Linked DNA regions of Homo sapiens. The protein of the gene in region 1 purifies or fractionates together with the protein of each later gene. This does not show direct contact. Each region holds a gene or a part of one and is shown in the gene's direction. Other genes may lie near its edges.

The links.
Region 2: the proteins of HNRNPC (region 1) and ELAVL2 purify together in Homo sapiens (affinity purification with mass spectrometry; 2 studies listed by BioGRID and IntAct, with this or other methods). This does not show direct contact.
Region 3: the proteins of HNRNPC (region 1) and RBM45 purify together in Homo sapiens (affinity purification with mass spectrometry; 2 studies listed by BioGRID and IntAct, with this or other methods). This does not show direct contact.
Region 4: the proteins of HNRNPC (region 1) and HNRNPM fractionate together in Homo sapiens (co-fractionation; 2 studies listed by BioGRID). This does not show direct contact.
Region 5: the proteins of HNRNPC (region 1) and STAU1 purify together in Homo sapiens (affinity purification with mass spectrometry; 2 studies listed by BioGRID and IntAct, with this or other methods). This does not show direct contact.
Region 6: the proteins of HNRNPC (region 1) and NCBP1 purify together in Homo sapiens (co-immunoprecipitation; 3 studies listed by BioGRID and IntAct, with this or other methods). This does not show direct contact.
Region 7: the proteins of HNRNPC (region 1) and FAM120C purify together in Homo sapiens (co-immunoprecipitation; 2 studies listed by BioGRID and IntAct, with this or other methods). This does not show direct contact.

Annotation. Positions count from the first base shown.
Region 1 is NC_000014.9:21,234,780-21,239,050, reverse strand, and holds part of HNRNPC (heterogeneous nuclear ribonucleoproteins C1/C2), read left to right. Parts: intron 1-2,590; exon of another isoform or gene 2,591-2,678; intron 2,679-4,271. UniProt on the Homo sapiens protein: Binds pre-mRNA and nucleates the assembly of 40S hnRNP particles. Interacts with poly-U tracts in the 3'-UTR or 5'-UTR of mRNA and modulates the stability and the level of translation of bound mRNA molecules. Single HNRNPC tetramers bind 230-240 nucleotides.
Region 2 is NC_000009.12:23,815,949-23,820,219, reverse strand, and holds part of ELAVL2 (ELAV-like protein 2), read left to right. Parts: intron 1-4,271.
Region 3 is NC_000002.12:178,122,227-178,126,497, forward strand, and holds part of RBM45 (RNA-binding protein 45), read left to right. Parts: intron 1-1,295; coding exon 1,296-1,425; intron 1,426-1,601; coding exon 1,602-1,686; intron 1,687-1,900; coding exon 1,901-2,064; intron 2,065-3,757; coding exon 3,758-3,950; 3' UTR 3,951-3,958; intron 3,959-4,271. UniProt on the Homo sapiens protein: RNA-binding protein with binding specificity for poly(C). May play an important role in neural development.
Region 4 is NC_000019.10:8,468,782-8,473,052, forward strand, and holds part of HNRNPM (heterogeneous nuclear ribonucleoprotein M), read left to right. Parts: coding exon 1-53; intron 54-2,544; coding exon 2,545-2,646; intron 2,647-4,271. UniProt on the Homo sapiens protein: Pre-mRNA binding protein in vivo, binds avidly to poly(G) and poly(U) RNA homopolymers in vitro. Involved in splicing.
Region 5 is NC_000020.11:49,114,921-49,119,191, reverse strand, and holds part of STAU1 (double-stranded RNA-binding protein Staufen homolog 1), read left to right. Parts: intron 1-783; coding exon 784-859; intron 860-1,095; coding exon 1,096-1,415; intron 1,416-1,943; coding exon 1,944-2,066; intron 2,067-3,324; coding exon 3,325-3,410; intron 3,411-4,271. UniProt on the Homo sapiens protein: Binds double-stranded RNA (regardless of the sequence) and tubulin.
Region 6 is NC_000009.12:97,636,662-97,640,932, forward strand, and holds part of NCBP1 (nuclear cap-binding protein subunit 1), read left to right. Parts: intron 1-4,132; coding exon 4,133-4,221; intron 4,222-4,271. UniProt on the Homo sapiens protein: Component of the cap-binding complex (CBC), which binds cotranscriptionally to the 5'-cap of pre-mRNAs and is involved in various processes such as pre-mRNA splicing, translation regulation, nonsense-mediated mRNA decay, RNA-mediated gene silencing (RNAi) by microRNAs (miRNAs) and mRNA export.
Region 7 is NC_000023.11:54,081,662-54,085,932, reverse strand, and holds part of FAM120C (constitutive coactivator of PPAR-gamma-like protein 2), read left to right. Parts: intron 1-16; coding exon 17-218; intron 219-856; coding exon of another isoform or gene 857-891; exon of another isoform or gene 892-910; intron 911-4,271.

The DNA of each region.
Region 1 (4,271 bases):
TGTTCAAGCGATTCTCCTGTCTCAGCCTCCCGAGTAGCTGGGACTACAGGTGCAGGCCACCACGCATGGCTGATTTTTGTATTTTTAGTAGAGATGGGGTTTCACCATGTTGGCCAGAGTGGCCTTGAACTCCTGACCTGATGTGAACTGCCTGCCTCAGTCTCCCAAAGAGCTGGGATTACAGGTGTGAGCCACTGCACCCAGCCCCAGATTTCTTAATGTTAAATCTAGTTCATGTAAATTAGTGCCATTTTATTATCTAACAGCATTATTCGACTATTACATACTAGTAAATGGTGATAGAGTAGGATCCCTGGGTTAGCTTGCATTAAAAAAAGAAAAATTCTAGACCCCTTCAACTAGAAGAGGGGAAATATGATGATGAGGGGCATTGACCTCAAAATATTTGAGTATATACAGGTGCATTAAGACTTGGACTATTATTACTAATGTGATTAACCTTTTAAAATTTCTACCAAATGGATTTTCTGTTTTAAGGAATATTTGTTTGGCTTAAATGAGTTTTTCCTACAGAAATCCCAAGCTTGTATGTACATTGTAGTGAATTTGGGAAATACAGAGAAACTGTGAAAATGATTGTAAAGATTAATCACAAGCAGAGTACCCACAGAACATTTTAAGATATTTTGATGTGTTTCTGTACTGTCCGTTCTTAAATGATTTTTATGTAGTTCATTTATGTCTCCTATGTATTGTACGTTTTCAGATACTATTTTTTTGACTCAAATTATAATTTGCACATCACTTGAAGTTGTATTTTTAAAAGACTATTATTGCTGGACATTTATTACTATTGGGTTGTTAGTTGTTAGAACTCGGTTATAAAAATTCATATAGAATATGACCAAGTAATTTAGATCTGTATGAGGCAAAAAGCAAAAGTAGACCTATTCATTCTACAAGTGGTTTTTACACCTTCCAGATGTAAAGGGAGTAACAAGGCAAGAAAATGGGATCAGGGCCGAGTGCAGTGGCTTTCACCTGTAATCCCAGCACTTTGGGAGGCCGAGGCAGGCGGATCACCTGAGGTCAGAAGTTCAAGATCACCCTGACCAACATGGAGAAACCTGGTCTTTGCTAAAAATACAAAATTAGCCGGGCCTGGTGGCGCATGCCTGTAATCCCAGCTACTGGGGAGGCTGAGGCAGGAGAATCACTTGGAACAGGGAGGCGTAGGTTGCAGTGAGCCAAGATTGCTCCATTGCACTCCATCCTTGGCAACGAGTGAAACTCCAACTCAAAAAAATTAAAAAAAAAATGTGATCAAGGAGTTTGTTTTACTTATCTAAACTATTGTACTACTATAAAAGGATGCTGGCAACCTGTTACATGAAAGAACTGAGGGACTGTTCTTAGGATTTCTAACAACAGTCTGCGTAACATGTTAAAAGTGGTGCTCGAGAAACCACACCATACTACCTAGAGAGAAATGGTATTGTTTAAGCATCAATAACACCACAAAAAGGTATTGCCACTTGTAGGACGAGGTAGTCTTGACAAAATATTGCAGATGAAGCTGAGTAAGCCTTGGTCCCAGCTGCTGCTTTCAAGAGTTACAGAAGAATATGTGGAATTGTTCTGAGAGTATCAATCCTGGAAAATACAGACTGGGAAACTACAAGTTAATACTGTGGATTCTTAAACAGATAAATTTTAACCTAATGCAATAGAAGCGGAACTTACCTACAAAAATGCTTCAAATGCATCACGTTTATTTTTCTGGGAAGACTAGAATGTCTATAGTTATACATTTAGGCATTAGAATTATTTTAAAAGTGAGAAAGTGCTAGTAAAGTCATAATGGTTGTTACCTTTTGGTGAGAGGAAGGGGGATTGGCAGTGGAATCAACCACATAGGGTTTGTTTACTTATGAGACTTTACAGGGATGCAACTGCTCTTGCACCTTCACACATTTTTATTGAAGTCCCTTGTGCTCACCCACTATTGGAGCAGGTGAAACTTCTAAGTTTTAACTGCTTTTCTAAAATTTCGTTCCTGTTGCTTTTCAATAAATAACTGCTGGTTATTTTGGTATTCTTGTATTTCTAAGTCTATTATTCTCCAAGTTGCTTACCTTTTATTTCTCCCACAGTCAGTGAAACCATATATGCTGGCTTGCCTTTACTGCCTTGCATTTTGGAATTTTGATTTAAATGCTGTCTGTAGGATAGTGATTTTGCCATCTTGAGTCTTATTTTGGGAGTCAGAGATTCAAAAACTACTCTGCTCTTGCTGACCCCTTCCAAGAATCCCAGTTCTTTTCCAGTAGTTTCTTTGTGTTACAGTATCGTCCTCCCTTTATGGAAATTTCACCTGTATGATACTTTAAAATTTTGAAGTAGAATGAAGTGTGACTTGACATCATTTGGTTATTTCTAAAACTTCAGGAAATGTACCTCTTCCATAAAATTTGAAGTAGCAATACCACTGGAATTTAAGGAAGCTCTCAGGACAGTCTTTGTTACTATTTGTGCCCTGGATTTTCCCTGAAATGTGGTACTCAGCACATGGTTAGTAAATATTTGATCCCCAAAATGAATGAATTTGTAGTGACTGTTCATTCCTTAGGAGGACACGTTACTAAGAGTGGAATTAATCCGTATTGTGAGTACGTCTGTCTTTACTGTTGCCTCCATCTTGAATTTAAGTCCTCATAGTAAGTATGGGTATTTTATTAATTTTAGGCAAACTTTGGAAGTTGGGATTTTTGTATTTTAAAAATAAGTAGTTGATGATTTTTGTAGCAAATTTAATAACCAGACCATAAAGAAAATGAGAAATCATATCCTTAAACTCATAACAACCATTGCTAGCATCCTTGTATGCCTGGATGCTTTTCTACTGAGTTTTTCCTTTGTGGATCTTTGAGAGAATTAAGGCCTGATACACATGAAAAATGCCGTGGGGTATGAATTCCTTGCATCTTGATTAGTACTAGCTATGTACTCAGACTTGTGAAAATAATACTAGCTATGTACTCAGACTTGTGAAAATTGAGAAAATGGTCATTTAAATCCATTTCTGTCTTATTCCAAAGGGTACCCCTTTCAATCACATCTGTATTTTTCTGCAAATGTCCATTTGGAACATTGGACTGTGGTTTGATGGGTTTTTTCCCTTATGGTCAGTATTCTGTGTTGGCTTACGGAGCCCCTCACCCCTGGTAATTTCTTCTCATTAAACCTATGGAGATTATATTTTCTATTGATAAACCTATTTGTGAAAAATAGTTGCTTAAAACCAGATTATACCTCCACTTGTAATAATGGGAAATCTTAATAACCAGCAGTAGTATCTGAAACCAGTTAGGCCTCAATGCAGATTTTTGTTTTAATTCCTCTTTTTAGTGTCCTCAGACTTTCTGGCATACTTAATAGCTGAAAGGCTGTTGGTGGATTTCAGTGGCTACTGTTTGTTAATTTTTATTGCTTAGTGTTAAAATATTAAGAAGTTTTTGTAAAGATATACTTTAGAAAGTAACAAAGACAGACTTTTGAATTTCAGAAAGATTTGGAAGGAAGTGAAGTTTTGTTTGAGCTTTTAAATCAGTACTGCCTGTTAAATGACTGTATTAAGCATCAGAATGATAGGAGTCATGTATATATGAAATGGTGTTAAACTACCTGTTTTTATGTACATATATGTATACATTAGACTTTTTTACATCATCCGTGAGAACTAGTTTGTCATGATTCACTTGAGGATTGGAAGGATAACAAATACTGGAATCTTTTGAGATTTATCAGTACCTTTCAAAGGGATGAAGGGGAAATCAATCTTAAGAATGTTTTTAAATCTTGTTCAAGATTGGGGGTTGGAGTGGGAAGAGGCAGGAAACAAAATGCTAAAAGAATGAAATAAAACATTTTCGCTTTACGGGACCTGAGATGGTATTGTGAATCTGCATATGGTTATGGTAGGATTGAGCCTCCATCACATACATAAAGACAGATAATTTTTGGTTTTAAATAATGCGTGGAAAGTTGTGTATTTTTCTTTAATTCCCCAATCTTTAATTTGATTCATGCCGTGTTCCACTGGCTAGTTTTATCATCATCACCATCCGATATTATTAAATGTCCTATATTTTAGGTTATATAAAAAGTAGCCTTCGAGTCATTGCAGTCTGTAAAAAGATGGTATTGATACTTATGTATCTAAAGCATACTGCAGATTAATTGAAGTATCTGGAAATAGGTGTTTCCAGTGTAAATGAATTGATTCTATTTATTGCCTTTTGAAGAAAATT
Region 2 (4,271 bases), on another chromosome or scaffold:
GTCCCCATTCCCTCAAGTAAAATCTGTTTGTTTGAAATATTGTTTTGTTGCCCTTGAAGAGTTTTCTCAAGAATCGTTTCGCCAGAGTCGCTTGAATTTCCCATTTCTTGTGGAAGCTGACCTGGAGTTTCCATTTTGGTGAGCGGGTGGAAAAGCTGTCCTGCATCTACCTTGTCTTAGTAACCTTTGGGTATATATAAATGGTGACTGTATTGCTGAGTGGACCCGAATGTTACTGCATTTGTGGTAGGGGCCTTCTTTATAGGAGGTTTGTAGGGATGCTAAGGTAACAACACTTAAGGTTGTGGGGAGGATATACTTACGGGAAGTTCGCTTGCAAACTATGGGGAGAGAAAGAAGAGGAAGAAAACATCTGGAAGATAAAGGCCAGAATGGGGTAGGAAAAATTAGAATATGAAGAAACATGTTACATTAAATTTTCTGTGATTCCTCCTTTGTAATTTTCCTTTTTGAGAGAGTATTTTTATTTTTGTGTGGTTAAAACCAGCCCCTTGTTGCCTGTTATTTGGGTAACTTTGTGCTGCCACCTTTCAGGGAGTTAGTTGTTTTTTTCTTCCTTTGAAAGACAACTTTAGGTGTTAAGCCCCTCCCTCTTCCTTATCTGTAGGTGTTTCCTTCATTGTGTAGTGTCTTCTTTCAGGAACAATCAAGTCAGCTATATTCAGTGCTCACACACTTTCCCTGTGGTTCAAGATAATTTTAGTTATAGGATATGCTTCTTGTTTAGAGCAAGTACCCACTGCTGGTCAGTGTCTACCACTCTTTTGACACTCAGTGTCAAAAGGTTACTATGGAACCTTTTTTCTTTTCTAGGCCTAAGATGTGTTTTTATAGATCCTCTCTGATTTAGTTTTTTTGGTTGATTTGTTCTGGTTACCGCCTCTTCACAAGAGAAAAACAAAGCCTTTCTGTCCCAGTTTCAGTGGTTTTAGTTAAGACTCAGCTCCTGGTAGGTTAAGGGAGAATGATGCTGTGAGTGTCATATACCATCATTCCTTGAATCAACCTTTTGATTATTTATACACAGACAGATGCTGCTAGCTGAATCCTTGTAACCAACCGCTCTTGGCTCTTCCAGCCTTCCCTGCTTATCTTTTAAAAATAATGTGCCTCCCCTCCTGCCACCCCACTTCTATTCTAGAAGCAAGTCTTAGGTTCTCTTTAAGGACACAGCAAAGCCTTCCAGAATATCCTGACTTTTAAGCTGGGATCAACCTTTTCCTCTTTCTTTGCTGAAAGACATTTTTTTAAAAAACCTGTGACGCTTTTCAGGCATTATTGGCATTGCACAAGAGCACCACAGTGGCAAATTAGCCTTCATGTTCTTTTTCCCCAAAGGACTAGATACTCTGAAATAGCTTCTTAAGCTTCTTATCAAGACTGACTTTACCATTCCCCTTTTTGATGACTTGTCTGCATGGTAGCATCAGTATTTTCGCTCCCATTTGATGTCTTATTAAATCTATCACATCGTCACATTCTTATTGCCACTTTTATCACTCATAATGTTTATTTGGAATTGAGAGAGGCTAGAATCTGTGGTACTTAGCTTGGTTTGGTTACTTTTTTGTTGACATTTTAAGGGGGCTAGATGGTGTGCCACCCTGTGGAAAACCTGCCCATCTCAGTCTACCCCCAGCTCTTTGTTTCTTGGCTACTCAGCTGGACAGGTCAAAAATGATAGTAAGCTACCACATTTGAGTGTGTGTGGGGGGAGGTTAATTTTATTTTTGGCGTGAGTACTTAGTTATGGGCAGGACTGCTTTTCCAGCTTGTAACCGGTATGGTTGCACATCCTACCCAATCTTGAAATTCTTAAGAATTTTTGGACAAGGTTACCCTGCATTTTCATCTTGCACTGGGACCCACAGATTACGTAGCTTTTCCTGGTTAGTTGCCTTCCCACTTGTTAGTATTTAGCTGTCAGTATTGCTGCTTTGTTGATATATTATAGAACTGTTTGAAGGCTTTATGTCTAGTGATGCCACACCTGACTATCAAATTCACTATGGAGGACATAAAATGCATAAAATTTTTTCTTGCTTTGGCCATTTTCATTTTACAGGTGTAGAAGTCTTCACCGGTTCTGGTTACGCACAGAGCCCACATATTGTAGTTCAGTGCCAAATCCACACTTTTGTATGTTCTAATTTGGGAAGAACATTTATTGTATATTTATTTGGTTCGAGATACTAGACGGTTTATAGTGCTAGTTAATTATTTAAGGATTTCACATAACGTAAATTTGCCAAGTGGAAACAGAAGACACTTAAGCTTGAAAGGCAGTGCTTATTTTAAGGCTTTTACATATTAAAAGATAAGTGTTTTATTATGATTTAAATGATAACTTTTGGAGTCTGAATTAAAAGTCAAAGTTTGCGTAATAAAATCTTAGATTTTTGTGGGGTACTTAGGACATTTTTCACTAGTAAATTTAACAGATTTGGCTTTCAGCTTGTGTGATGTGTATCATATGTTTCATTTTAGTAAGGCTAGAAGAATTTTTTATTTCAAGGGAAGAATTTTTTTTATCTCTAAGCTTGTATTCCATTGTGCAAAACAAAACAAAAGGTAACTCTTGTGTGAGCAACGCTGTGCTAAATGCATTCTCATAGACATCTTCATCTTTAATATCAATGTTAAGTTTCTAGAGATTGGTCTTAATAAAAATAACTATTTTTGCAACGAGCATTCTTTTCTCAGAGCTTTGAGTTAGGCTCTCAATGCGTGAACTGAATTGATATGCTTAATGACATGGTACCTTTTTGAATATTGCTGAATAGTTCTGTGTGACAACAGATACAGGTTTTCGTTGTAAGAAATCTTTATGAAGAGAAGGATGGGGGCTTTGAGGAGTAAAATAGGTAAAATAACCCAGAAAGTCATAAGAATAGGTGGAATGGGGATAAAACTAAACCAGTTTATAGAATGCCTTACAGTGTCTTTTTTTTAAATAAACTTGCAGTTTCTTAGTATATATTTATATTACTGATATCTATTACATCAGTTTCTGACTGAAAATGAATAGGAGATAAGGTCTGACATGCAAAATCCCCTTTCCCACTTTTAAAAATGTATTTTAAAAAACTTGACAAATTTAAAATTATACTTACTGTAAGACAGTAACAGTAAAATGATAGGTTTTTTTTTTTAAGACACAGTGAAGGTTTTGCTTTAGCACTGGTATATTTTGAACCAGGTATGTTATCTACAGTTTGATGTACCTGTATATTTTTCCGTTGGCCAATCTAATACAGATGCTCCTGATAAACCCATTGCAAGTTGAAAATGGCATTAAGTTAAAAATGTATTTAATACGCCTAACCTACTGAATATCAGAGCTTAGTCTAGCCTACCTTAAACATGCTCAGAACATTTATGTTATAGTTGGGCAAAATCATCTGGCAACACAGAGTATCCATTTTTCACTCTCATGATCCATTGCCTGAGTGGGAGCTGTGGCTTGCTACCATTGCCCTATATCGAGAGAGTCTCTTACCATAGACTGCTAGCCCGGGAAAGGATCAAAATTCAAAATATAGTTTCTCCTAAACGTGTGTTACTTTTATATCACCATACAGTTGAAAAATCGTAAGTTTGAACCATCATAAATTGGGGACCATCTGTAGTGATAGATTTAATCCTTGGGTTTTTCCTTTGACTTAAAAAGTTTATCATGAAAGGGAAATTTATATTCTAAATGTTCTTTTCTTCCAGCATTTTGTTTTTGTGGGTTGTTCATTATTGGAGATTATTTCAGCAACTTTAAAGACTATGTTAATAGGATATCACAAAAATCTTTTATAAATATCAAAGCAATAAACTATTCCTTCAAGATGGATTTTTATCCCCTTTTTTTTTTTTTTTTTTTTTTTTTTTTTACTGAAAGCTTTTAGTACACACTTTCTTGACTAATTTCATCTCTTTATGGGACTAGGGAATGATAGTTGTTTTGAGATTCTTAGCTTTCCTGCATTTCTTTAGAGTCATTGTAAAATTGGAAGTTCTTGTTAATATTGAGGGGCTAGAATCTCTTTAAGCATTTGAAGAAAGCTGTAGCTGTCTCTTCCTAGAGAAATATATACAAATAAGAAATTTCCATACAGTTTTTAGTATTTTGCACTTTGGAAGAAAGCGTGTTAAAATGAGGTTCCATTTGGGAAATAGGACTTTGGCAATTAGAGTTGTCTTCTTATACTAGTGAGAACTGGGTGAAGTCATTCAGAGGTTCTTGTCTGCTGTTGAGTTAG
Region 3 (4,271 bases), on another chromosome or scaffold:
TCTAAGGGGTTTTTTTTTCTTTGTTAGTGAGGGGTGGTAGAGAGAAATCATACTTGGTTGGCATCTCTTCCAGTTTTGTAAGGATACCTGATTTAGTCCTTTTAGAGTGGCATGGCTATTGACATAGAAGTAGTGACGTGAGTTTGGTCATGTGGACCAACAGGACTAAGGTAACTCCACCCTTCATACAGACACCCCCACATACTCACTAGTACCCAACCCAGCACTAGTCTTTTTGTAGAACTGTCTTTGAGCCATCCCCAGTCTTAACCCGATCATATGCGTCATTCTCTGTTCTAAGACTTCTAGGCACACATTTTTGTGTTCTCTGGCACATTTGTTATATGCATATGAAGTTGTGTTCATTTTGTTTTGTTCCCTCCCTTTTATCTGGTATGTCAAAATGTATTTGTTCCTGTACCTCCTGTTTTGTTTCTCTGGTTGGATGTGTCTGAAATATATGTGTCATTGGAACATCTTTTTATTAATAGAGGTGTCATCATATAGTTCGAATCTCATTTGAATTAACTTTATATGGTCATTTGATTTCTGTGTTTTATTTTAATTTCATTAAAATGTTGGATGCTTGGGTTTCCAGATGAACATAAATTATAAGTGTTTCCCCAGTGGTTTGTATTATAAAAGTGAAAACCTTTTAGTTGTGTCACAAACTCCTGGGCTCTCTAAGGAATGCATTATAACATTGTCCCTCCCTTCAACATCACCCTCCTAAATTGAAATTCGTCCCTTTGGCAGAAATCTCTCCAAAGGAAAGTAAAATATATCACTTGTGATCTGAGATCCTCTGTTCCCTATCTTTTTGTTTTTCATTCAAATCACTTTTCCTCTCCCTACTGCTGCAGATAGCCGGGATGAGTATATATTCTTTTCAACTATCACTTCTCATTTCATTTCCTACCCAGTATGGTTGGGAAAATCTTAAAATTTCAAAGTAGATTTCAAAGAATAAAAATTTAGACTTTTAAGTATATTGGTATCATATAAGAAAAGCTAGTATCCTAAAACTAAACTTATTAGACAGGACGTATGTTAATATTCCATTTTCCCTAAAATATCATGTTCATATTTTTCCCTAAATTATTTCTTCCTTTTCTAGGAATACACCTGTTGCACACATGATAACAGAACTGTGTTTTCTGATACATTCGATTCTGTATTTACTAGTTGTGTGATATTAGAGTTCTACATGGTTTCATTTTTGTGATAGATTGTAACATAGGCCTTAGGCACTCAGTCTGCTTTCCTTTTTCATTTCTGTATGTTCTCTATTTTAGGTCATGGAGTGGTTCAGTATTTTAATGTAGCATCAGCTATTTATGCAAAATACAAATTACATGGATTTCAGTACCCTCCTGGGAACCGAATAGGTGTTTCCTTCATTGATGATGGAAGTAATGCAACAGAGTAAGTACCATTCCAGGAGTGTCTAAAGCCGAGCTTTGAGTGTACATGATTGATAGGACTTGAAGAATAAAAATAGAAACAATTGACCTCTCAGGTGAGAAAGTCACACAAAACAAGCTACTGTTAAAAGACTGAATATTTTTAGTTTTCTGTAAATTATCAGTTATTTTTTCCAGTCTCCTTAGAAAAATGGCAACACAGATGGTAGCTGCACAGCTTGCATCAATGGTGTGGAATAACCCAAGTCAGCAACAATTTATGGTAAGTAGGTAAGAATTTAACCTTTATAATATATCAATAGCATATAAAATAAATGTGAAGAGAAATCATGCTTTGTTGATTATCTGTGTATGAAAATTTTCAGAGCTATTGTGGAAGACCACATAGATGCCATGATACATATCTGTCTTTAGCTCTTGGCCAAAAATCCCTAAAGGGCATTTTTTTCTTTTTCTTGTTTTCTACCTGTTAACAGCAATTTGGAGGAAGCTCTGGATCACAGTTGCCTCAAATCCAGACAGATGTTGTACTTCCATCATGCAAAAAAAAAGCTCCTGCTGAAACTCCTGTGAAAGAAAGACTTTTTATTGTGTTTAATCCTCATCCTTTACCTTTAGACGTATTAGAAGATATATTCTGGTAAGAAAGTTACATTTTTTGTTATATTTTATTTACACTAGTAATTTAATTATTCTTATAATCTAGACACTTCCTTCACCCAGTACCTATCAAGTAGAGAGTATTAGTTCTCTGCTTTTAAAACCTCCTTATTTGTATCATCTTTTTCAATTTCTGATTATTTTCTTCTCTTGTTTATCAGTCACACATCCTAAGGCTCCATAGAGAATTTCCTGCTATTTTGTTTTTGAAACATAAAGTGGGCCTGGTGCAGTGGCTCATGCCTGTAATCCCAACACTTTGGGAGGCCGAGGTCAGGGGATCGCTTGAGCTCAGGAGTTCAAGACCAGACTGGGCAATATGGCAAAACCCCATCTCTACAAAAAATACAAGAATTAGCCAGGCATGGTGGTACATGCCTGTGGTCGCAGATACTTGGGAGGCTAAGGTGGCAGGATTGCTTTTGCCCAGGAGGTCGAGGTTGCAGTGAGCCAAGATTGTGCTACTGTACTCCAGCCTGGGTGACAGAGTGAGACCCTTTTTGTTTTTTGTGTTTTTTTTGCTAAGCATCTTCTGTTTTGTTGGTGCATTGTAGGATCCTTAAGGGTTATGCAGTCGCATTGTGTAAACAATTACTTGATTGTAGGGAAAAATACATAAATGTTTTTTATAATAAAAAAGGGAAGGTTCTTATTTATTTTTGTGTTTTTAACATAACTCCTTTCTTTGCTTTTTCTTTTAGGCCTTTTTCCCATTTGCCTTACAAGAATGTTAGTGAATTTGATAGACAGGAAGCTTGTTAAAGAGCTGCACAAAATATCAGGGACATAATGTGATAGTATATTGAGGCTCAAAAGGAAAAAAATATCAGGATATGGTTCAAGTATTTTGACCTTTATTTAACTGATATATTTAGTTTTCTTCTTGAACCTCCTCTTTGTTCAAGGCAGGAACTGTGCTAAGTACAAGAGACATGTAAACAAAATATTAAATGGACAAGACATTATGATTCTTGTCCTCTTAGAGCTGATCTCATGTAGGAAACAGACAAGTAAACAGAAAATTACAACCCAGGGTGATTGTTGCTGTGATAAGGAATGTGTAAGATACAAAGGAGGAGCAGTTACCTTAGAAACTCTGAGAAGCCTTGAAAGAAGGAAGGTGTATGTGGAGACCTGAAGTATAAAAATAATTTCTCCACAGGTGAAAGCTGGGGGTATGCATGGTTATTTCTGCCATAGAGAATGTAAAAGAAGGGCTGTTAAATAGGGAATTTGAGAGATTGTTAAGGAAGATGAAACTAAAGAGTCCAAGGACAATGTCAGAACGGCTCTAGAGCTATATTAAGGAATTTGTTGTCACCATGGAGGCAATGGGGAGCTGCTGAGGGGACTTTTAGGGAGTAAATGATCATATTTATGTTTTAGAAAGATCACTCAGAAGACAGAGTGAAAAATGGATTGAAGAGGGACAAGCTCAGGGGTAAGGAAACTAGTGAAAAAGGAGTTAGATTAAGGAAAAGATGATGGTCTGAATGAGAAGAGAGATCTGAATGAGAATGAATAGAATTGACTGAGATGTTTAAGATTGACATGAGTTGGATGTTGGATCTGGGGAGAAGGGTGAAAATGGAGTCAAGAATGGACTCCAAATTTTAGACCTGAGCAGTTGTATTTATCAATTTTGGTTGATTATTTTTTTCACTTTGTTTCAGTCGTTTTGGTAACCTGATCGAAGTTTACCTTGTGTCAGGAAAAAATGTGGGGTATGCCAAGTATGCCGATAGAATAAGTGCTAATGATGCCATTGCCACTCTACATGGAAAGATTCTGAATGGGGTGAGACTTAAAGTTATGCTGGCAGATTCGCCAAGAGAAGAATCTAACAAACGGCAAAGAACTTACTGATTCTTGAGGTAAGCCCTTTTTAATCTGAATTTTAAAACATATTGAGTAAATAGTATATGAGGAATATGTGTAAGTACTTTATAAACTTTTCTTTTTAGTGATTTAGAAGTTGTCAGTTAAAAGAGCTTTGCAACTATTTAAACTTTAAAAATTGTTGACATTTACTGAAGAATGTTTTTGCCCTTCTGTAAAATAAAATCACATTTCAATTTAGAAAGATAAATAATTGTTTTTTGTTTGTGAAATCTTCGATTTTAAGAATTCAACTTTTTATTATGTGCTTATATAAACTTTTAAGTTGTCCGGTGCTAGAATAAGGAT
Region 4 (4,271 bases), on another chromosome or scaffold:
GGCCTTACCAAAAGGAGATTTCTTCCCTCCTGAGCGTCCACAACAACTTCCCCGTAAGTGTTTCAGTGATTAGGGCTGAGAGTTTGAATTGGAGTTACACTAATAAACAGAAAATTACCATATGGTTTCACTTGAACCTGTGCCAGGTTAGCCCTCAGTTCTCTTGGCCAGTTCTTTTCTATAGATTTTTCAGGGTGAGAAATGAGCAGAGATTCACAACTTGAGGATATTGTTAGGATTACCTCATGGTAATCCTAGGATTGTAATACCAGGATGTAGAGGATGTGGTTAGGCATTTTGAAAGTGTCCTGGGGAAGGAAGAATCAGAACCTGTGAAGGGAATGAAAACCAGGCTGCACTCTAATTCAGAAGATACTGGTTAGTCCCATGTGGGCTAGCAGTGCACACTAGACATCTGCACAGAAATTCGCACGCAGATGTTTGCAGCAGGATGAAAGACACATGCTGCAGTGTGGATGAACCTCGATTTCATCTACAGGAAATGCTCCGCATAGATAAATGCATAAAGGCAGAAAGTAGATTAGTGGTTGCCTGAGGCCGGGAAGGAGTAAGTAGGGACGGGACTGCTAATAAGGTTGGATTTCTTTTTTGGGTGATGAAAATGTTCTGGAATTAAATGGTAGTGATAGTTGCATATCTCTGAATATACTAAAAACCACCGAATACTTTGAGTTTTATGGTATGTGAAGTGTCTTGAACAAATAATTTGTATGCAGAGGGGAAAGGGATCAGCTATTTGTGACACCCAGGTGAAAATCTGTCTCGTGACAGGGAAGGCTAGTTGATGGGCTACCACATAGGTAGAAGTGGCAAATATTAGTGCAGAGTCATAGATAAGCCAGAGGCTGGAAGCAAGAACCTCAGTGCATACAGCGGTGGGACGACTCAGGGAATCACTGGCGCAGGTAAAGCTCTCCTGGAGAAGAAAGATGGATGAGGGTGAGAGGCCTGTGTGTGCTGTGCTGGGGTGACCTCCACCAGGCGGGTTGAGGGGGCCTGGTCTGGAGCAGCAGCTCAAGCTCAGGGCCCTACTCACTGAGTTGGATGGGAGCCCAGGCCAGAGCACCTTTGCAGCGTAGCATTATGGCAGCATGACAGATGTATCTTGAAGGGAAATCTGTGGCTTCATGAGAAGGCTCATCTGTTGAAAGGCAACATTAGTTAGAGAAGGATTGCATTTCCTGGACATAACATACTCATTTCCCAAATAAATTGTCAGTGTGCTCACCTGAGCAGTGGTCACCCTGGACCATGGCGATGGCTCTTGTTGACTCTTGTGCTGGAGCAGGAGGAGGAGCACACTGCTCCAGGGAGCCTGTTATCCATGGCTCTTGGTCTCCCGGCCATTTCGGAGGCTTGACTTCAAAGCCTTCAGTGCTTTGGGAGAGTAAGTCACCGTGGCGATCTCTTGCTGCTGTTGCTATGCAATTAAAGATGGAATGTTCATCAGATGAAACGCCTGGGAAGTGGTGGCAGGTTTTATTTACTTTTTAAATGAACTTTGTTTGCTTTCTTTCCTTCCTTTCTTCCTTTTTCTTTCTTTTTGATGGAGTCTCGCTCTGTCGCCCAGGCTGGAGTGCAGTGGTGCGGTCTTGGCTTGCTGCAACCTCCATTTCCTGGGTTCTAGTGATTCTCCTGTCAGCCTTCCAAGTAGCAGCGATTACAGGCATGTGCCACCATGCCAGGCTAATTTTTTTTTTTTTTTAGTAGAGATGGGGTTTTGCCATGTTGGCCAGGATGGTCTCGAACTCCTGACCTCACGTGATCCACCCGCCTTGGCCTCCCAAAGTGCTGGGATTTCAGGCGTGAGCCACTGCGCCTGCCCTTGTTACGATTTTTAAAAGCTTACCTGGTTGTAGTTTAAGCCTCAGATGGTGGTTACCCCAGATATTGCAAGTGTCAGCTCTTTTGGCTGTTTCCAGAGACCAGCCTGTATTTCTGTGTCCCTGTCTGTGTTGGTAGGGCATGGAGTTGAGTGTGGGCTGGGTATCCAGTTGTGGGTTGGGAAGCTTTGGGGGAAGGAAGATAGGTTCTTTGAATACATACATTAGCTTCATTGTTACTAAAACCACCCAGATTCAGAGAGTAGTGGACACCCAGGATGTTGATTGGCTGGTTTGTAACGTGTTTTTTCATGAGAAACATCCTTTGGGCTACTAGGGATTGGGCACATTTGTGCTGCTTGCCACCTGATGTCTTGAGTCACCTTTTTTGATCAGACAGTTCTCAGTCCATGGGTTAGTGAAACAAATAGGCTCTCAAGAATCTTAGTGTGGGGGTTGTTAACTTTCCCGTGTTGGTTTTCAGCCGCCTTTGTTGTATACACACATATCCCAAACGCCGGAACAAGGCTCTGTTTCCAAGTGTGCCGATGTTGAATTTTGCATTGGGCCCTGAGGTCACTGGTGGGTGGGGGTGGGTAGGCTGAAGTGGATAGCTGCAACTCACTAAACACTCTTTTCCTTTGAGGGTCAAGGTTTGCTAAATAGGGGAAAACTAAGCTTCTTTCTCTTTTCTTTCCAGATGGCCTTGGTGGTATTGGCATGGGGTTAGGACCAGGAGGGCAACCCATTGATGCCAATCACCTGAATAAAGGCATCGGAATGGGAAACATAGGTCCCGCAGGTGAGAATGACAGTGCACCTTGCTTGGTGGTTTGGGGAAGTGAAAATTATTAATTATTGGGACAACTGGACTTTGAGTAGTTTAAATGGAATAAATATTTAACTGGGACAAAATTCCCTCCTTATTCATCTCTGCCTCATTTTGAATAAAGGCAGTATTTTGTATTTTTATCAAGTTGAGTCATTTTTTAAAAAGTCATTATGCTTTTTCATTGTAACCTGACAACAACCTTCTAAGCTGAAATAGTTGTGCCATTTGATAAGAGGAGGCAAGCCAGAGAGTTGATCTTGCTCAAGGTCACACTGTCAGTTACTGACAGGCTGCAGGTCTCCTGACCACGGGACCATAGCACTGCCGCAGTGCCCTGAAAAGTGTCTTACCAAGACCCCTTTGGGCCCTCCTGGTGTTTGCACAGCTGCTGCTAGAGAGCTAGGGGCATTGATAGATGCAAAAAAGGTGGAGAGGCCAGGCACGGTGGCTCACGCCTGTAATCCCAGCACTTTGGGAGGCCGAGGTGGGCGGATCACAAGGTCAGGAGTTTGAGACCATCCTGGCCAACATGGTGAAACCCCATCTCTACTAAAAATAAAACAATTAGCCGGGCGTGGTGGCGCACGCCTGTAATCCCAGTTACTCAAGAGGCTGAGGCAGGAGAATTGCTTGAACCCGGGAGGCGGAGGTTGCAGTGAGCTGAGATCACATGACTGCACTTCAGCCTGGCAACAGAGCGAGAGTCCGTCTCCAGAAAAAAAAAAAAAAAAAAAACCTGCATGAAAGCTTTGATGTGTAGAATAAACTCAGGCTTTGCTGTTTAGCATTTTCATTGCTGTGTAATGATGTATTTTGATTCTATTAAGGAATATGTCATTTTTATGACCTTAGACTTTGGTCTTTGTTGGAATCCTTTGAAATTGGAATATGGAAGCCCCTCTATCCCACCATTGTCAGTGTTGCATATCCCTAGACTCTCTTCCAGAGTCACCCTGGGGCTGACTTAAATTCTGGGCCACAACTTCAAATGGCTGTTAACGTTTCCCCCGACCCAAAACACACACACCCCATGTCTGACATCTAAACAGAAAGACTGGGGGTTGGGGAGGAAGTCTTGGTGTTTTTAGGAACTGGTTTTTATTTTGAAGATTTTACCTTTAACAGGGATTGATTTATTGAGACGGAATTTTGCTCTTGTTGCCCAGGCTGGAGTGCAGTGGCTCAATCTCAGCTTACCGCACTCAATCTCTGCCTCCTGGGTTCAAGTGATTCTCCTGCCTCAGCCTCCCAAGTAGCTGGGATTACAGGCATGTGCCACCACACCCAGCTAATTTTTTGTATTTAGTAGAGACAGGGTTTCACCATGTTGGTCAGGCCGGGCTGGAACTCCTGACCTCAGGTGATCCACCCGCCTCGGCTTCCTGAAGTGCTGGGATTACAGGCGTGAGTCACCACGCCCACCCTTAACAGGGATTCTTAAAAAAAATCTACTTCTGTTCCCTAAAATTTTCTAAAAAGTTTATGTTCCATAGAATGTGTCTTATAATTCTATTTCATGTTTAATACTGCCTAACTTGAGGCCTGGTGTGGTGGCTTATGCCTGTAATCCCAGCAATTTGGAGGCCGAGGGTTTG
Region 5 (4,271 bases), on another chromosome or scaffold:
ACGTAAAAAGAAAAATTCGTGTCTGCCAGAAGTGGTAAGCAGGACCTCAGCAAAAGCCATGGCTGACCTTCTTCTTTCCCATCACTGAATGGTCCTGGTGAGATAAACTTGAAATCAGGCCTGATTCATTCATGTCTGCCAGTCATATTGACAGAAACAGCATCAGTCATGGCCAGTTAATAACTGACTGGGACCCCAGATACCACCAGTATAGATCTTAGACTTGGCTTTAGGGTTTTTCATTTCAGAATCTTGTAGGACATTCAGAGTGTCCTTTGTTACTTCTTAGAAAGGTGATGTTGTGTTAGACAAAATTCTTAGGTAATAACATTTTCCCCGTAAGGGTGTTAATTTTGGAATGTCACCTTATTTTTTAATTGGATATCAGCTCCAGGAAATATTCTTGATTTATTTGTTTAGCTTCAGTCTGAAAGCTTCTTTCCCCACCTTGGTGGGCTCTACCGTCTAGCATCTCTGCTCTTTCTGGTTAAATGCTTCCCGTCTTCCTGTGGGTGCAGAGTGCAGCTCAGCATTCACAGGTTAGTGCACTTTGTTAGATGCTCTTTGTGGGCAGGGGTGTGGGCAGGAGGGTGCATTAGGAGAAGGAGGCAGGCTCTGCCCAGGTGTCTGTCAGGGTGCCAGTGGTCAGGTGGGGCAGGGTTTTTCTGCCGATTGCCACAGTTATTGCTGACTGGACTTTGTGTAGATTTAGACAGCAGGAGCTAATTTTTCAGTGATCTGATTTATGCTCATGGCCTTTTTTTTTTCTTCTTCTTTTTTAAGACACCCATAAAGAAACCAGGGGATGGAAGAAAAGTAACCTTTTTTGAACCTGGCTCTGGGGATGAAAATGGGACTAGTAAGTGTGATCTTAATATCGTCTTCCTCTGAACGTGATTCTGGGATTTGCATGGGTCCTGAATAACAGCAGGAGCCCAGCCAGTGAGGTCCCGCATGCAAAGTGTCTTTATCATTCCCTGATTCCCTGCGCTGCCATGCGTGCCAAGGGGAGGGCCAGCGTGGGGTTTGATGGTGTCATTGCGTTTTTCCAGGCTGTGGATGTGGATTCGTGTTTACCGTGTATGTCCCTCCCAGGTAATAAAGAGGATGAGTTCAGGATGCCTTATCTAAGTCATCAGCAGCTGCCTGCTGGAATTCTTCCCATGGTGCCCGAGGTCGCCCAGGCTGTAGGAGTTAGTCAAGGACATCACACCAAAGATTTTACCAGGGCAGCTCCGAATCCTGCCAAGGCCACGGTAACTGCCATGATAGCCCGAGAGTTGTTGTATGGGGGCACCTCGCCCACAGCCGAGACCATTTTAAAGAATAACATCTCTTCAGGCCACGTACCCCATGGACCTCTCACGAGACCCTCTGAGCAACTGGACTATCTTTCCAGAGTCCAGGGATTCCAGGTAACTGTCTGGCCTGAGCTGTGATGGCTGTGCCTCAGGACAGTCATCTTTTGGCTTCTCTCAGAAAATGAACTTTGAACTTTGTACTTTTTTCTTAAATCAAGTTCTGTCCAGGGATGGGCTGGGGAGCAGTGATGGAAGGGTAGGAGGTATAGAAGTATTGTAAGCATATGTGGTAAGAGAAATATCTTTATCCTTTGGTAGTAAGATTTCAACATGCAAGCCAACCCTAAAAGCTTCTAACCACTAGCAGTGGTTGTAAATTTGGATTTCAAAGAACAGACTCATCGTGCTGACACTTTCTGTCTGGTAGGAAAGGATATGGCTTCTCCCAGTCTTGGGCTTCTGAGCAGACACCTAGGTTCCTGGAAGGTTCTGGGCTGACAGGGCAGGTGTTAGTATGGCCACAGTGGGGCTGAGTTGGAAAAAAGAGCTGGTGATCTTGCTTGTGGGGCCTGGAGCTGCAGCCCTCCAGCCCACTCATACTTGCTGTTCCCTACCTAGCCTCAGCTCTCTTTTCCCCCTTAGGTTGAATACAAAGACTTCCCCAAAAACAACAAGAACGAATTTGTATCTCTTATCAATTGCTCCTCTCAGCCACCTCTGATCAGCCATGGTATCGGCAAGGATGTGGAGTCCTGCCATGATATGGTACGTCACACCTTGGGTGAGGGATTGGGGTGTTGTGTGTTTATGTGGAGCCTGCCTTGGTTCAGCTTGTTACTAGCCTGAGGAAGATGGGAGAAAGATTGTCCCATAGACCTTGAGAGCAATGAATCGTTTGATAGTGTTCATATTTTTGAAGACTTTTTGTCATAGCTGATTGGATCGATTTCTCACTCTTGATCAGAACTCATCAGCTTTAGCCCACCTTTCCCTTCCTTTTCCCTGCTGGCCTGGAGGGGCAACTGGGATCCTGCAGCTCACCCAGAGACTGCACTCACTTCATCTCTCACCAGAACAAGGAATTGCAGGTCCACGTTCTGGCAGCTGTAAAAACCACTTGCTTTGGTCTTCTGTTCAGATGAAATTATTGTTATAAGAAAACTGAGAAAAGGAATTGATCAGATCAACAAATCTAAGTAAACTGTGATGTATTCACTTGATGGGATGTCATGCATGCATGAAATTAATGTCTCTGGGTGGGGTGTGGTGGCTCACACTAATCCCAGCACTGCGGGAGGCTGAGGCAGGCGGATCACCTGAGCTCAGGAGTTCAAGACCAGCCTGGCCAACGTGGTGAAACCCCATCTCTACTAAAAATACAAAAAAAAATTAGCCAGGTGTGGTGGTGGGTGCCTGTAATCCCAGCTACTTGGGAGGCCAAGGCAGGAGAATCGCTTGAACCCGGGAGGTGGAGGTTGCAGTGAGCCAAGATTGCACTACTGCACTCCAGCCTGGGCAGCTGGGTGAGACTGCGTTTCAAAACAAAACAGTGTCTCCGAAGATAATGTAATAAGAAGAAAAATACATGATAGGCCGGGTGTGGAGGCTCACACCTGTAATTCCAGCACTTTGGGAGGCCAAGGTGGAAGGATCGCTTGAGCCTAGGAGTTTGAGACCAGCCTGGGCAACTTAGTGAGACCCTGTCTCTATAGAAAGAAAAATACATGATAGATTTTTGTTAGAAAGCAGGATATAACATTTATACAGTCTGGTTACCACATGGTTAAAAATACTAGAAGGAAAAATATAACATTTTCAGAGGTTATGATTCAGTGAGGTAACTGAATATTTTTTAATTTGTATTTTAAATTAAAAATTCAAAGTTTTATTTAGTAGTACCAGAGTTGAAGAAGTTGCCACCTGTTTGCTGGGCAGCAGGAACTCTCTTGCCTGCCTGACCAGTGTATTATGCTGTGGTCCCAAGCGGTGGCTGTGGCTTTACCCTTCTTTCCATCCCCACTAGGCTGCGCTGAACATCTTAAAGTTGCTGTCTGAGTTGGACCAACAAAGTACAGAGATGCCAAGAACAGGAAACGGACCAATGTCTGTGTGAGTGCACTGATGAAGGGGAAGGCGCTGATGATGGGGAGGCTGCCCCTCGTTTGTGTTGAGTTTACACTATCTGCTGACTCAGCGGGGAAATATTTGCCTGAGTTACTTTCTGGCCCTTTTGCCTGAAAGTTTTCCAGATTCTCTGGGCAGAAAGCTCTACTTTTAAAAGACATTTTGAGGCTGGGAACAGCGGCTCACACCTGTAATCCCAGCACTTTGGGTGGCCAAGGCAGGTGGATCATGAGGTGTCAGGTGTTTAAGACCAGCCTGGCCAAGATGGTGAAACCCTGTCTCTACTAAAAATACAAAAATTAGCCAGGTGTGGTGGCAGGCACCTGTAATCCCAGCTACTTGGGAGGCCGAGGCAGAGAACTGCTTAAAACCTGGGAGGCGGAGGTTGCAGTGAGCCGACATAGCGCCACTGCACTCCAGCCTGGGCGACAGAGCAAGACTCCGTCCCAAAAAAAAACAAAAAAACCTTTTTGAGTTGGTCATACCTTCACATGGTCAGAACTCTGCATTATTTTACAAGGTACAATCTTCCCCTCGGACAGCCCCCATCCCATCCCTCCTATTCTCCCCACCGCCTCCCCCATAGATCACATTTTTACTAGTTTCTCCTGTATCTTTCCTGTATGTTTCTTTATACAAATATAGACATATATTTCTTCCCTCATTTTCTTCCTTTCCCCCCACAGAGATAAGTACACACACTCTCCTTGCGTATTTTACTTACTGGCATACCCTGGGAAAACTTTTGTTATCATAAACTGGGGCTTTTAGTATTGTACTTCCTGATGTTTGCCAATTTCTTTTCATTTTTAACAGTACTTTAATTCTCTTACATTTCAAAACTAG
Region 6 (4,271 bases), on another chromosome or scaffold:
ATATATATATATAAAATCATTTATTCAACAAATACTTAACAGTGCCAAGCTCTGTCCTAATTACTTGCCATACAGCAGTGGACAATATAAAGATAGAGCCTCCCCTCTAGAGTAGAGAGAAGACAGTCAAGTAAAGTATAGTGTATCATATAGTGACAGGCGCTATGGAGTGATACCAGGTAAAGAGGGGAGAGATTTCTGTGAGGGAGAAGTTACTATTTTATGTAAGTTGATTAGAGAAGGCTTCGGTGTGAATGGCATTTGAACAAAGACTTGCCGGAGGTAAGGTAGCAGCCATATAGCTGTATGGGGAAAAGCTGTGATCCAAAGGTAACCATGGGCACAAAAGCCTGAAGACTATAGGGTTCCTGTCATGTTAACAGAAGAGCAAGGAGGCCAGTGGTGCTGGAGCAGAGTGAGTGAGGGGGAAGTTGTAGGAGATAAGATTAGAGAGATAGCAGAGGGTTGCATCTTATAGGGAGATTATAAAATTATACTTCTGTGTTGAGACTCGACTATCAAAGATTAAGGGGGGTAGGATTAGGAGGCTATACCAATGAAGTTCATGTAGTAGTCCATTTATAAACAAGGAAAAGGAAATGCTAAATGGAAAGTAATGTGTATGGATACTAGTCCAGTGCTAAATCTTAACTAATTGCTTAGACTTGCTTTAAAAATGTCTCTGAAGCTTTTTAGTTACTATGGGATATGCAGTCCATTGTTTGTTCTTTTAAGAAAGTATTTAGATTGTTCAAAATCTTAGCTAGAAACAATACGAATACAATTTTGGGAATTTGGGCAATTTACAAAAATTTCAGATTTGCTGTATTAGCCCCATTTAAGCTTCTTAGAATTAGGTCCTTGTCTTTTGGACTGTGGCTGATTTTTTTACTTAACTAAAGAAAAAAATAGAAGTGAAAGGATTTGTTATTTTGAGAGAGTATAGTTTATTTCAGAAGTGATGGTTGCCTGTTTTAAGTCTGCGGGCTCAAGGCATGTTATCTTTCAAGTTGTTCAATATCAAAATAGATGAGCCAAAAAGAAGGGAACAGTGTGCTTAAGGTTTAAAAACGTAATGTTGAAGTTGTTGGTTTTAGTTACTTTACTTTTCTATTTTACAGGGTTGGTTTTTGTTTTCCATTTTGTGGGTCTAAAATTTCTTGTAAGGCTATAAGATGTACAGTGTACCCGTATAAAATTAGGATTGACTTATAGAGGGGAAATTTATTTGGTTTATTAAGATCCTTTCAGATGGATTTTATACCTGCTTCTCTATACTAGCCAAGTCTGTCTGAGTGAAGTGGTAATGTTATCTTTAATTTACATTTTAAAACTTTTACATAGTTAAATTTTAATAAAAAATCTGTTCTTGCCTTGGGAACTACCATAGATACGTTTTCTTCAGGGTACATTGAGCGAATTCCCCAAATTGTATTCGTATTGTTTTATTTCATTTCCCTGTTCCCTTACCCAGGTTGTCTTATGAGTTCAATATCATGTTTCTGTTCGTAAGTTCAGATTTTGTCTGTAGTCTTCACCCCTTTATAGTCTCTCAACTATCAGGTGAAAGTGGAACATTTCTTACCTCTTAATACTTTCTGCCTCCTCCCATTCTCCAGACAAATATTGTCCTTTAATATAGCCAAAATGAACAAAGGGTTTGCAGTTCAGAGATGTGACTATGTACATGTATTTTCTAGTTGTTTCTCAGAAATCATACCTTCTCTTCCCACAGCACTATTTTCCCCTTTTCAAGCTTATAAGAGGGCCTAGGAGGGTTGCTTTAAAGGCTGTGGTATGATTCCAAACTGGAACAAGCCAGCTGGAAAGTTAAGTTAGGAAGACTGTAGAGGTGGAATAAAGGGTTGGCAAAATAGATGAGCCAGAAAGAAGGGAACAGTGTGCTTAAGGTTTAAAAAACAGCAACAAAAAATAACTGCTCTCATTCAGCTAGTTTTTCAGCATCTGCATTCTCCCAACCTCACTGAAATTTGGTTCTGAGGAGCTCTGCTTTCTAGAATACGGTTTCTTAACATCAGCACTATTGACATTCTTGGCCAGTTATTTGTTTTGGGAGATGCCCTATGCAACGTGAGATATTTAGCAGCATGCCTGGCCCCTACCCACTAGATGCCAGTTGCTTCCCCTAGTTTTGACTACTAAAAATGTCTCCAAGGTTTGCCAGATGACCACTGGGGGCAAAATCTACACCCTGTTGAGAACTACTGCTGTAGAAGAAGGCTATTTGAATGTCCTAGCTGGCAGCTTGCGTAAATATTACATCAATTATGCTTTTTTTCAATAAGTGAATCCTGGAAATGAAAGACCTTTGTGTGAAATTTGGCACTTTGGGTGGTGGAACCTTGATAGGTCCTGTGACTTAGGTTTGATCTATACTTAAGAATCAAGGTCCCTGAACCTCTGTGCCACACATGTCTACAACTTTACACAGGCAGATATCTCCAGGAATAAATACATCTCAGCTCTCATGCTGCATGCGTATTATACTTTTTGTGGCATTATCCTTTCAAAATTATAGTCAGTGGACATTCAGTCAGGTTATCATGGTAATTAATGGGTTGGGAAGTTGACGTACAGAGTGTCTTACCCTGTAACCTTTATAATACCCCCCCTCAGATCCTATGTGGATAGTAATAGATTCGTTTTATTCAGCTTCAGTTCATGTGGTATCTGAAGATCATTTCAGTCATTCAATAGATTTAACATTCCAAGCTTAGAATAGCCAGGTGCTGTGTTTTATGAGAATCACCATACATCATTTTCAAGCCAAGTGTTCCATAGGCAAGTAAGTGATTATGAACTTTGTAACAATAATTCCTTTGGCTGTTCAGATCTGAAGATTGAAGTTATATGTAACTTGCTACTGTGTAACCATATATCCAACTGCAGATTTTCATTATTAATACCGATTCCCTGCACAGTTACAGGCTCTTGCTTTCTTGTCCATATGCCGACCAAATAATTGAATCAATGGAAGTCGAAAATTGGATTGTATTAGACTAGCCAAAGTGTTTAGCAGCAGCATCAGGTTCCATACTTAACACTATTATTTTAATTTTTTAAGCTTTATGTTATACCACAAAAGGACTTAGGTGAGTGTGTTAAGGCTTTAAACAAAGTGGTAAGAGATACAAACAGCAAGGGTCTTAATAGACAGGTGTTTGAGGTTAATTTTTAGCACACCTTCATTCAACTTGAATTGTTGAGCAATCAAAAAGACAGATGCTTGGTAATGATTTTAGAATGGTAGATTTAAAAAACATAGAGATTATTCGAATGATATGGTTTTTAAATAAAGCAGTTATCAGTAATTCAGTTAATAAAAGCTAGTTAAAGCAGGAATTGTAAAACGTGGTCCTTTTTTCCACCAATTTTTTGATATAGTGCTCAGGACTTTTCTTTGAATATACGTATACTGACTGTCGTTCCCATTATTTAGGATAAACTATACCGTTGTGCTGCATCATATGCAGAACTGAAATTGTTAATTGAAGACTTGAGATTAGAGCTTAGAAACATGTGAAGCAAGTGAGAAATCCTAATGTTTTATGCTCCTTTTTCCCATCTTTTGAAGCTTTCCTCTTTATAGCTGATATGACAGCTTTTTTTTCTGATCAAGTCTTTCCAAAGCATTCGACTTGGTTTTGCACCCTTATTTTGTCATTTACATAATACATTATTAGACTAATGAATACTACTGGTACTAACAGGTTTCGGAACAAGCAACTGAGGATCAGTAAACAACTCAAGTTAAAAGAATGGGAGTAGCGGTACATGAGTATTCTAACTACTAGTGTTTAACATGTTGTTGGCAGCTTTCCAGCTTGTCCACAGAAATGGACAGGGCTGCTGATTGCATAGCTCCATGGGCACTACTCACACAAAATTTAACATAAATAATGCCTCCTGGAGTTATTGTATATAGTGGCTCTGGGAATGGGAGGCTGTTGGTTAATCTAGCTTAGTCTGAGAAATGGAGGGTCTGTGAAGAGCTTCTACTCTGTAAAAACATAGGGCCTGGTAGAAAAGAGATTATAACCTAAAAAGGTTAAATAAAATTTGTGATAGCAGATTTATCATGTAATGTTAATTTTTTATGTTGCTGAAATAGGTGGGCAGCCTCACAAAAGGAGAAAGACCTCTGATGCAAATGAAACTGAAGATCATTTGGAATCTTTAATATGTAAAGTAGGAGAAAAGGTATGTCACACAATAGGCACAGGCTGTGATGGGTTTAAGAATGTGGTTAA
Region 7 (4,271 bases), on another chromosome or scaffold:
TCTTCCTCATTTGAAGGCTGACCTGGCAACCAAAGTGGAAAAGATGAGACAGAGCATCCTTGAAGGAGTCAACATGAATCATCCACCGCCTTCTGCTCTACTTCCGTCACCTACTTTTGTGCCTCCCATGGTGCCCTCTCTCTACCCTGTTTCACTTTATTCCCGAGCTATGGGCTCCATGCCACTTCCCCCTCAAGGGAGGAGCCGGGGATTTGCAGGTCAGTACCAAAGAATGAGGTATTTACCATCCTCAATTTATGTCATAATAATCTATCCAGTCATTATTGTCAATAACAGGATCAACAGTTTCACATATATCTCATCTCATTGACTTTTTTTTTTTTTTAGACGGAGTTTCACTCTTGTCGCCCAGGCTGGAGTGCAATAGTGTGATCTCGGCTCACTGCAACCTCCGCCTCCTGGGTTCAAGCGATTCTCCTGCCTCAGTCTTCTGAGTAGCTGAGATTACAGGCATGCACTGCCACACCTGGCTAATTTTGTATTTTCAGTAGAGACAGGGTTTCACCATGTTGGTCAGGCTGGTCTCGAACTCCTGACCTCAGGTGATCCACCTGCCTCAGCTTCCCAAAGTGCTGGGATTACAGGCGTGAGCCACAGCGCCCGGCCTCATCTCATTTATATTCTGTGCTATGTAGTTTGAAGAGCAGCTTATATCCATTTTGACTTTTAAGACCATTCTTCATAGAGGTCGTTGGTCCCCAGGGATTTGACTCTCACCAACCAAACTCATGAAGTGACTGATGTGGAAACCAGAACCCACTTTATTACTTTAGAGAACCGTAAGTCATATGGACTGGCTCTTCATGGTTACTGTTTGTTCATTCCTTCCATATAGGCAATGCACACAGGAGCTTGCAGGAAGATCAGTGAGAGTAAACGGCCAGTGCTGGTAGGCAACAGTAGCTTGATGTATCCATTTCCACTCTGCGAATATACTTGACACATTTCCCTTCCTTCAGCTCCAGAAGCATGGAGAGAAATATGTCACCATCCATGCCACCAGAGGATTGCAGTTTAGTGAGGAAAACATACACACACACACACATATGTACACACAAACATATGTATAAATTACGGTGGCACTTGAGCTACAGTTTAACGATGAATACACAATCATGCCTAGGTTGCTCAGATACTGATCCTGATAATTGAGACAACCTGTCCCGTGGTGAAACAAGATTTTTTTTTTTTTTTTTTGAGGCCTGGTCTCCCTCTGTCCACAGCCCGGCTAATTTTTGTATTTTTAGTAGAGACGGGGTTTTACCATATTCGTCAGGCTGGTCTTGAACTCCCATCCTCAGATGATCTGCCCGCCTTGGCCTCCCAAAGTGCTGGGATTACAGGCGTGAGCCATGGCACCTGGCAGTGAAACAGGATATTTTAGTGGAGACATTTCAACATAAAATAGCAAGATTCTGTGATTGGGTCAGAGTGTCATCGCTGTGGTTGAAGGTGTTTGTTATCTATTGCTCCTCCCTTTAAAAGTAATAAAGCTGGAAGTTGAAGTTAGTTTTTTAGGGTGACAAAATTCAGTATGGGTGGTTAGCTCAAGGCTGGGCTTAGATGAACAGTGTGAAAGTCTGCTCTGGTAACTCCCTGTTCAGTCAGATCATGATCAAGTCTTAAAAACCAGGGAGCCAGCCAGTCCATCCCTTTCAGATGACTTTACAGATCCTTTCTCCGTTCTTTATGTGTTGATTTTATTTTGTAAGTCTCAAAAGACAGCCTTAATTTAAGCCAGGTTCTTGGAAGGTCACCACTGCCCTACCTACCAGTGATGCTTAGTCTCCAGTTACTGGTGGTTCACAAGGAGCCTCTTGCCTCCTGAAAGCCCACAGTAGGATCCTCAAATGCAAGTCTTTCTTGTCCCTCTTAAAAGTAACTAGCACTCTAGGCAGGGAGCAGTGGCTCATACCTGTAATCCAGCACGTTGGGAGGCCAAAGTGGGCAGATCACTTGAGGTCATGAGTTCCAGACAAGCCTGGCCAACATGGTGAAACCCTGTCTCTACAAAAAATATAAAAATTAGCCGGGCATGGTGGCGGGCACCTGTCTGTAATCCTAGCTACTCGGGAGACTGAGACACAATAATTGCTTGAACCCGGGAGGTGGATTGCAGTGAGCCAAGATCGAGCCACTGCACTCCAGCCTAGGAGACATGGCGAGGCTCTGTGTCAAACAAACAAACAAAAAGGTAACTAGCACTCTAGTTCCTTGGACTCTCAAGTTTTATAAAGTTTTATATAAATGAAGGACTCGTGTGTGTGTGTATGTGTGGATACAGGGTCTCACTCTGTCGCCCAGGCTGGAGTGCAGTGGTGCAATCATGGCTTGCTGCAGCCTCAACTTCCTGGGCTCAAGTGATTCGCTCATCTCAGCCCCCTGAATAGCTGGAACTACAAGCATGCACCAACATGCCTGACTAATATTTTGGTGTGTGTGTGTGTGTGTGTGTGTGTGTGTGTGTGTGTGTGTGTGGAGATGGGGTCTCGCTATGTTGCCCTGGCTGGTCTTGAACTGGGCTTAAGCGATCCTGCCTGCCTTGGCTTCCCAAAGTGCTGGGATTACAGGTGTGAGCCACCATGCCTGGCCTAAATGAAGTACTCTTTACTAACAACCTGCTAAATGAGTTAAGGGTTCATTTGGTTTCTTGTCATAAACTAAAATTAAAGGCCTAGTAGAACTCCATATTCTATGAAGGCTTATTTTTGTGCTAAATTACAAAACCCACTGTGCTTGTGACTTGGTTCTGGTTTTCAATTGTTGCTGTTCTTGCTTTTTTTTTTTTCTTTTGAGATGGAATCTCGCTCTGTCACCCAGGCTGGAATGCAGTGGTGCCATCTCTGCTCACTGCAACCTCCACCTCCCAGGTTCAATCAATTCTTCTGACTCGGCCTCCTGAGTAGCTGGGACTACAAGCATGTGCCACCACGCCTGGCTAATTTTTTTGTATTTTTAGTAGAGACGGGATTTCACCATTTGGTCAGGCTGGTCTCGAACTCCTGACCTCAAATGATCTACCCACCTTGGCCTCCCAAAGTGCTGGGATAACAGGTGTGAGCTACCATGCCCGGCCTATTCTTGCTTTTTAATTATAAATTACTGTTAGTTTAGTTTCATTATTTTCAGTTTAGTTTGGTTGTTGGTTGTTTGGCTAATTCTACAATCTGTAATGATGTATATTTGTATCAAAAGTAGTTTAGGACCGGGCACGGTGGCTCATGCCTGTAATCCCAGCACTTTGAGAGCCTGAGGCAGGTGGATCACTTGAGGTCAGGAGTTCGAGACCAGCCTGGCCAATACGGTGAACCCCTGTCTCTACTAAAAATACAAACATTAGCTGGGCATGGTGGCATGTGCCTGTAGTCCCAGCTACTCAGGAGGCTGAGGCAGGAGAATCACTTGAACCTGGGAAGTGGAGGTTGCAGTGAGCCGAGATTGCACCATTGCACTCCAGCCTGGGTGTCACAGTGAGACTCTGTCTCAAAAAAACAAAAAAAAGAGTAGTTTAGGCTTGTAATTTTCCAATAACTAGATGTTAAGACATTCATTCTTTCAACAAATACTGAATGCCTACTATATGCTATGATCTGTGATTAAAAAATGAGTCACCTGCACCATACTTGGTAAAGTAGATGTGTACAGATCTCCGGCCCTCCTCACTAAATGTGCTTCCATCATGACACCTTTCTGTTATCACAGAATCTTTTTTTTTTTTTTTTTTGAGACAGAGTCTTACTCCGTCCCCCAGGCTGGAGTGGAGTGCAGAGGTGTGAACTTGGCTCACTGCAACCTCCACCTCCTGGGTTCAAGCGATTCTCCTGCCACAGCTTCCTGGGTAACTGGGACTATAGGCACGGACCACCACGCCCGGCTAATTTTTGTATTTTTAGTAGAGGCGAGGTTTCCCCATGTTGGCCAGGCTGCTCTCGAACTCCTGACCTCAGGTGATCCACCCGCCTCGGCCTCCCAAAGTGCTGGGATTACAGGCATGAGCCACCGTGCCCTGCCACAGAGTCTTTTTATCAGAGAGAAATGGAAAAAAGAGTAGGTAGCGGGTTGTAGGATCTTTTGTCCACCTCTTATCCTGCCTTGTACTTACAATTCTTTTTTCTTCTTCTTTTTTTTTTTTTTTTTCAAGACAGAATCTCATTCTGTCACCCAGGCTGGAGTGCAGTGGCGCAGTCTCAGCTCACTGCAACCTCCACCTCCTGGGTTCAAGTGATTCTCGTGCCTCCGCCTCCCGAGTG